2 linked regions of the Homo sapiens genome follow. The protein of the gene in region 1 purifies or fractionates together with the protein of each later gene. This does not show direct contact. Each region holds a gene or a part of one and is shown in the gene's direction. Other genes may lie near its edges. The genes, in order: OTUD7A and OTUD5.

Region 1 (3,809 bases):
TGAAAACATCAGTTCACATTACTCTCCTTCTGTAGACTCTCCAGAGGCTCACAGTTCCCTCGAGAGCCCCCTTTTCACTCTCCCTCTCTCCTCGATCCCACTTTAGCCACCTTTCCCTCTTGCCTTTTCTCAAGTACTGCCCCCTCTGGGTCTGTCCCTGGCCTTTCCCTGTGCTGGGACAGCAACTTGGCTCCTTCCTCCACCCATTTGAGCCTTTGCTCCTATGTCTCCATTCACGCCACAGCAGATCTGCCTGCCTCACCTCTCCTCGTGGGGCTGCCACCCTCAACATCGTACACTCTGTGCCAGCCTCGTGGCTATCCTCACTTCCCACTTCCCCACAACATGTGCTCCATGAGATTTTAGGAACTTCATGTGTCCCGGCCACTGCCACATATATTCCCAGCACCTAGAATGAGTGAGTGGGTGCGTGGGTGGGTGGATGGCTGGATGGACGGATGGATGGATGGATTCCCCTGTGTTTTCCCTTGTAGCCAGAGCTGCCCTTCTCTTGAGCACTTCTCCCATGAGTTGGGGTTCTTGATCACATCTAAGCTGCCCAGAGCACATTCTCAGAGATGGCTGGTTTCTCTCTATATCCTCTCAGCACCTGGCACAGGGTGAGACCCTCTCACTAGGAAGCAGGCGCTCTCTCCTGGGCCAGGTGTGTGCAGTGGTGTCACTGACGCTCTGCTTCTCAGGAAGCTGAGATGCCTCAGGGCTGGAGAGGAGGGAAATGGCAGACCCTGGAGAAGCCAGGATGCTAATGGCCTCCCTCACCTGGAGCCCTCCATAAGGACACTGGACAGCCTGTCCCTGTCCCCTAGTCAGTCCCCCACCCAAATGTAAGACTTGAATAATGACCATTAGGTCCTCAAAGCAAACCAGCAACATTGAGAATGGGTTGCCAAGGGCACCAGAGAGGAAAAGCACTTGATTTTCACCCACTATTGTTTTGCTAAGAACAGGATGTGCTGCTTCATTCACCTAGTTGCCTTAATGGGAAGCCTCAGGAAGAAGGCTGGAGGGGAATTAACAGAACCGCTGAGTAAGGAGGCTGTTCTGCGTGCAGACAGGAGGCTCTCCCAGTGGGTCGTGGTAGTTTGCATCACCTCTGGCTTGTCTTTTCTCATGTCCTTTCTCTCCTCTGTTCTCCCTGGCCTCCTGGCTCCAGGAATGTGGGGGTTTCACGACCGGGACCTGGTGTTACGGAAAGCTCTCTATACCATGATGAGGACGGGAGCTGAGAGGGAAGCCCTGAAGCGGAGGTGGAGGTGGCAGCAGACGCAGCAGAATAAGGAGGTTGGTATCCACTGGCATGGCCAGAGCCCGGGACCCAGGCCAGATGCAGCCTCGGGCCGTGGTCGAGTCCACAGCATGGCCTCCAGGCCCCAGACAGTCTTATGAGGGGAAGGCAGAAACAGCCCCTGGGATCAGGAAAGTCTCCTGCTTTTAAGCCCACAGAGGAGGAGCCTGTTAAAATAGCAGAGTCCCGGCAGACAGCAACTATGCGTCCACTTGTGCTTCCTTAAGGCATAATCATGAAAGCTGCCTACCTTCATTCCCAAAAGCATCCTGGCTTGGATGATGAATTATATATATGACTGCCTGCTGTCAGGTGCAGCCCATGGCCCCAGCCCCTGTGTGTGAGCTCAGTCCAAAGGGATTCCCGATTGTCCCCAACCATGGTAAACATGAGGACCTTGCTCTCCTAGAAGAATCTGAACGGCCAGCCCCAGTTAGGTGCAGGCACAGGTTAATGCTCGGTCATCCCCAGCCCCTGAGAATGACCCTTGTTGGTGGGCAGATTCCCAGCAGCTCTGGAATTAGAGCTTGGGGCTTCTGAAAATATATTGTGCATAGCAAAGGTGGCCAAGAGGGTGCAGTTGGTATAGTTGGTAGCTACCTACAGATGTGCCTGGCCTGGGTCCCGGTGAGGCTGGTCCAGATTGGGAGGGTGAGGAGAGGAGGGCAGCGCAGCTGTGGCCCACCCCCCTTCTGAGCCGGCTCCCCTCTGCCAGTCAGGGCTGGTGTACACAGAGGAGGAGTGGGAGCGGGAGTGGACGGAGCTGCTGAAGCTGGCCTCCAGCGAGCCGCGCACACACTTCAGCAAGAATGGCGGCACGGGCGGGGGGTAAGTGCTGCCCCTGCTCTCCCCAGAAGTCACCTCCAGCTCCAGGCCACCCAGGGCTACACACAGCATGGGGGGATGGCACGGGGGGGAATGTGGGACTCTTGTGCTGTGGAAGACAGAAAGATTCCAGCTTTCCAGCATTAGCTTCAAGACAAGGACGCACGGGAGGACCGTGGGTGATGGCTGGCCCCGCCAGGTGCTAGTGGAAGGGTATGCAGCCCCCACATGCACTATGCAGGCAGAGGTGAGCTCACATGAGCTGCCTCCAGGCCACTTTCCTTGAACTTTATTGTGCACAACAGTTGGGGTGTGCGCCTTCAGGGCACAGCAGGCCTCTGGAGGTCACACGTGATGGTGAGCATTCCCACACATTGCCATCGCACGAACCTGGCTCTGAAGTTTGGGTTTTCTCCCCCAACTAATTAATTTGTGGCTTCAAGAAGTTGCCCTGAAAGCAGAAGCTCATTAAGCTAGCCTGGTGTTTCCCAGATGGGCTCCATGGATATTATATGTGTTCCCAGCAAAAAGACTTCACATCTGTGCATGTTTAGGAATAGCTTGTTCCTACAGAAACACCTTGGATGTTCTAGTATGGAATGAAGACCGTGGCCAGACCAGTGGGGCAGCCATAGAGCCTTGGCCGCGGCTTATTCTTCAGTTCATATTCTCTGGAACCTGAAAGCAAAGGTGTTGCTCCTAGAGAAGGTCTCAGCCAAACATGAGAAAGTGTGAGCAGTAACACCAGGGAGACCCATGGAAGGAGGATTGCATGCAGCTCCAGGCTGCCCTCAGGCTCATGGGCCCTGCAGCGGGCAACTGGGTCCTCACCCACCCACCAAGGCAGGGCCTAGTGCCTCATGGGCCAGCTCTCCCTGGAGGCCCCGGCTGGAAAAGAGGCTCCCACAGAGCTGCAGCTGCAGCAGTGGCGTCCAAGACCATGTTTGAAGATGAAATCATTAGAAACCCACATACGCTGGCACACCCTTCCTCCAGGGCTGTCTTGTCACTGTGTTTTAAGGCTATGTTATGTCCATACCAACAGTCTATCTTGGCAGGACATTTGAGGACAAGCATTCTGAAGACTCAGTCGACTGTGGAAAACTGCTCTCTTCCTCTGCACGCCTCCCGAGTCCTGCCTGTGATGGGTCTTAAGTGTTCCTCGACATCGTTTTCACAGTTGCCTCTCTCCCTCCTGCCACAGGGAGGACGCCTGATAGGTGCTGGCAGACTGGATCCAGGCCAGGTGTCTCTGCCAGGGACAGGGAGGAGTGGGGAAAGACAGCAGCAATGATGACTTTGATAGTGGGTGAAAATCAATCACAGGTGACCATCACATACACATCTCCTGAGTACCCCCATCCAGGAGGAGCTTCGCCCAAGGTCTCATGGCTAGTCAGCCCATCTGACTCCTAAGGCCACAGTCTGGTACCCTGCTGCCTGCTCCCTGGGGCCCGAGGGATTCAGATGCTAATGGGGACACAGGGGCCACTTGGTGTCTGTCCCTATCTCCCACAGAGTCTGAGTGATCAACCTTAATCTAACAAAAGGATTAGGTCCCTTTAGGAATATCCAAAATGGCCCAGACATTGTCCCATTTATGTAGGATAGCCTGGTCCCCTGCCCCTGGGAGCCATAGTTCTGGCTGCCACATCACAAAAGAGAAGGAAGAACCCGG
Region 2 (3,809 bases), on another chromosome or scaffold:
GGGTTTGGGACATCGCCACTCTGGGGAAATTCTCCTCCCACATTCCTTTTCCCCTTGGCTCAGGTAAATCTTTCTGTACTTCACAGGGGCCCCAAGCCTTGTCTTGAGCTCCTTGTTCTTGGTCCCTTCCTCCCATCATTAATTCTGGCACGATAAGCCATTTGTACTCAAGGGTCAGGACCAGTTATTTCTTCTCTCTCTGGTTGGGTAGTTTCTTTCCTCCTCTAGAAGCAGGGAGCCATACATCACTGGTCCTAGGGACAGAGGAAAAACATCCTATGCAGCCATGATAATTCAAAAACACCTCCTTACTCCCCTCCCTTGCGATACATCCCTGGTCCCAGGGACAGAGAGAAAGAACATCCTATGCTGCCATGGTAACTCAAAAACACTTCCTTATGCCCCTTGCAGTCCCTCCCTTATACTTGTCCCCATAAGAACATAAGAGTAAGCCGGGCATAGTGGCGCATGCCTGTAGTCCCAGCTACTCGGGAGGCTGAGGCGGGAGGATCACTTGAGCCCTGGAGTTCAAGACCTGCTTGGCAACATAGCGAGACCTCATCTTTACTAATAAAAAAAAAAGAATATGAAAATCAAGTTTTGTGGGTTCATGAAACCTGCCCTTCCCAATGACAGGAGAGGCTTTCTGTCCCCACACTTCTTAGGACAAAGAAGGTGATCCTCTTCTCCCTGCCTCACCTGGTCCAACTTGAGAGCTTTTGGGGATGAGAAGAGGGAAGATTCCTCCTGCCACCCCAGTCTTGGTCCTAAACTGTCACTAGGGGTGGTTGTAGCCTGGAGGTCAGTTGGATCCCTTGGGAAGAGAGGCGTCGTTGAGGGGGAGTCTAGATGGCGATTCTGGGGTTCTGACTACTTGGGCTTCCTCTTTGTCCTGATTCTCTTGTATCCCTACTTCCTTTAGGAGTCTTTTTGGCACTCTGGGGTCCAGGTGCTGGGTGGGTGGTGATGTCAGGGGTTCCCAGGCATGGCTGCCTTGCTGAGAGTCTGCTCTATGAAAAGGTTGGCCTGTAAGCATCCTGAGTTTGGAGACCCCACAGAGCTCTTTGAGAAGGGGCATGTGAACTGAGGTGGTGGAAAAAGCTGGGTGTGGCACGGTAGTTGGTGCCTGGGTTCCAACTCTGGGTCTTTCAAGGCTTTGCTGGATGAACCAGGGTAGGTTCTACCTATGCTCTCTGGGCCTCAGTTTCCTCACTGGCCAGGCAAAATGCTGGTGAGGTGTTGTTTAGCTTTGGGATTTTAGGGAACTCAGTCCAAAGTTCTCTGGACCTGGAGGTGGCAAAGAATGGTGGATGTCTTTTGAGGAGGAACTGGGTTTCTCCCCTCTCTTCCTGGCTCCTCTGTTCCCTCTCAGCCATCCAAGCTTGGTGGGCAGGACAAGCAGCCTGTTTTGTGTGAGGCTCAGGGTTGATGAACAGCCATTTTTTGTGGGCAGCCATGTTGTAATGAACAAGCTCGATGGGATTTCCTGTCAGGAGGCCTGTTGGATAGTGGTGTAGAGAGGTAGAGTTGTGTGTGGAGTTTGGGCTTTGGAGCAAGGCAAGCTTTGAGCCATCATCCCTCAATTCTCTCATCACCTCCAGACCTCAGCATCTCCTCCTTACCTGCTTTATAGCTTTAGGCAAACTACTTGCCCCCTCAGCTGCCCATTTTGCAAAAGTTTGTCCATGCCCAGGTGTGTCTGACCTTGCACACCTTGGACCTTGGCCGGTTCTTCCTCTTGCCCAGAATGGGCAGTTTGCCCCAGGGTCATCTTGGTTCTTCCTAGGAGCCTTTGTCCACTCCTAGTAACCTATCTTTGATAGCAAAGGCCCTTCATTTGGCATCTAGGAACCTGCTGATTTCTTGGGCTCTTCTTACCCCAACTGGAATTGGGTAGCTAGCTGGTGGGGAAGCAGGAAGGGGTCTCTGCCCAGGCAACGTGGATTTGAGTCCTGTTTCTGCAGTAAGCTTTTCTGTGGTCTTCAGGCAGTTCTCTTTTCTGGTTCTTGGTTTCTCCCTCCATGAAATGGGTAGTGTTGAGGAGGGAGGTTGGACTCATTGCTCTGAAGCAAGTTATAGTCTCCTCCCTGCTCCCACTCCCCTCACCCTTCATGAAAGTTTTAAGTGGGACCCCTTGGCCTTTGGGGATTGTGCTAGGACATTTCAAGCAGTGTTCAGCGTCCTTGGCTGGTGCTGAGCCCTTGGGTGTGTTTCTTTTAACAACTTTAATGAGATGTAATTCATGTACCATACTATTCACCTCTTTGAAGTGTACAGTTCAGTGGCTTTTAGTATATTCACAGATTTGTGCGTCCATCACATCACTACAGTCCATTTTAGAACATTTTCATCACCTTAAAGAGAAATCCAGCACTCTTTAGCTATGATCCCCCAATTTCCTCATCCCTTTCCAGCCTCTGGCAACCACTAATCTACTTTCTGGCTTGATTGATTTGTCTGTTCTGGATGTTTCATGTAAATGGAATAATAGAATATGCAGTTGTTTGTTACTTGGCTTTTTTCACTTAGCATAATATGTTCAAGGCTTATCCATGTTGTAGCATACATCAGTGCTTCATTCCTTTCTATTACTGAATAACAGGACCTTGGGTTTTTTTGTTTTTTGGTTTTTGTTTTTGTTTTTGTTTTTTTTTTAAGGTGGAGTCTTGCTCTGCTGCCCAGGCTGGAGTGCAGTGGCGCAATCTCAGGTCGCTGCAACCTCCGGCTTCCGGGTTCAAGTGATTCTCCTGCCTCAGCCTCCCAAGTAGCTGGGGCTACAGGCATCTGCCACCACACCCGGCTAATTTTTGTATATTTAGTAGAGATGGGGTTTCACCATGTTGGCAAAGCTGGTCTCCTGAACTCCTGACCTCAGGTGATCTGCCTGCCTTGGCCTCCCAAAGTGCTGGGATTACAGGTGTGAGTCACCGCACCCTGCCAATCTTAGAGGTTTTTAATCCCCCTGCCCTCAGTGGCCTAGCCAAATGTTGGGGCCTTGCTCTTCTCCCCTTCTGCCCTGGAGGGCTTGTGTTGGTCCTTAGAGAGTAGTGTGTCTATGTTCCTCGTTGGATGGGTTGCCTGTGTGTGTTTTTTTTTGAGATGGAGTCTCACTCTGTCCCCCAGGCTGGAGTGTAGTGGCGCGATCTTGGCTCACTGCAACCTCCACCTCCCAGGTTCACACCATTCTCCTGCCTCAGCCTCCCGAGTAGCTGGAACTACAGGTGCCTGCCACCTCGTCTGGCTAATATTTTTGTATTTTTAGTAGAGACAGGGATTCACTGTGTTAGCCAGGATGATCTCGATCTCCTGACTTCGTGATCCGCCCACCTCGGCCTCCCAAAGTGCTGGGATTACAGGCGTGAGCCACCACGCCTGGCCCCCTGTGTTTTGTCCATGGAGCCAGGCTAGTGTTCCTGGGTGCTTTGCTGGAGGGGGTGGTCTTGGCACCAGGGCTGCTGGGACAGAGCTGTGAGTCACAGAATGCTAAACACCTTTTGACCATAGGCTCTGGGAAGACATCTGTCCATGAACTGCCACTGCTGCTGCCATCTTTTGCCCCCCCACCCCACCCCCACTTCAGTGGCAGCTCATCCATCCATAGGCAGGGTCAGTAGTTTCCCAGGGTGAGAAGGGAGATTCCAGGCCCCTGCTGCCTTAATTCTAACCTCCCACCCTGGAGGATGGTAGGCAGGTGGACCTTGCAGAGCGGGATCCATGCCATATTGTCTCACACCTGTGAGGCACTAGGGAACAGACACCAAGGAGTGCTACCAAGGGGGGTGTGTTAGTTTCCTGTGGCTGTTGTGACA

The links.
Region 2: the proteins of OTUD7A (region 1) and OTUD5 purify together in Homo sapiens (affinity purification with mass spectrometry; one large-scale study listed by BioGRID and IntAct). This does not show direct contact.

Annotation. Positions count from the first base shown.
Region 1 is NC_000015.10:31,524,674-31,528,482, reverse strand, and holds part of OTUD7A (OTU domain-containing protein 7A), read left to right. Parts: intron 1-1,174; coding exon 1,175-1,302; intron 1,303-2,021; coding exon 2,022-2,134; intron 2,135-3,303; exon of another isoform or gene 3,304-3,383; intron 3,384-3,809. UniProt on the Homo sapiens protein: Deubiquitinase, which cleaves 'Lys-11'-linked polyubiquitin chains. Might be required for PA28-20S proteasome assembly.
Region 2 is NC_000023.11:48,950,902-48,954,710, reverse strand, and holds part of OTUD5 (OTU domain-containing protein 5), read left to right. Parts: intron 1-11; exon of another isoform or gene 12-63; intron 64-3,809. UniProt on the Homo sapiens protein: Deubiquitinating enzyme that functions as a negative regulator of the innate immune system. Has peptidase activity towards 'Lys-48'- and 'Lys-63'-linked polyubiquitin chains. Can also cleave 'Lys-11'-linked ubiquitin chains (in vitro).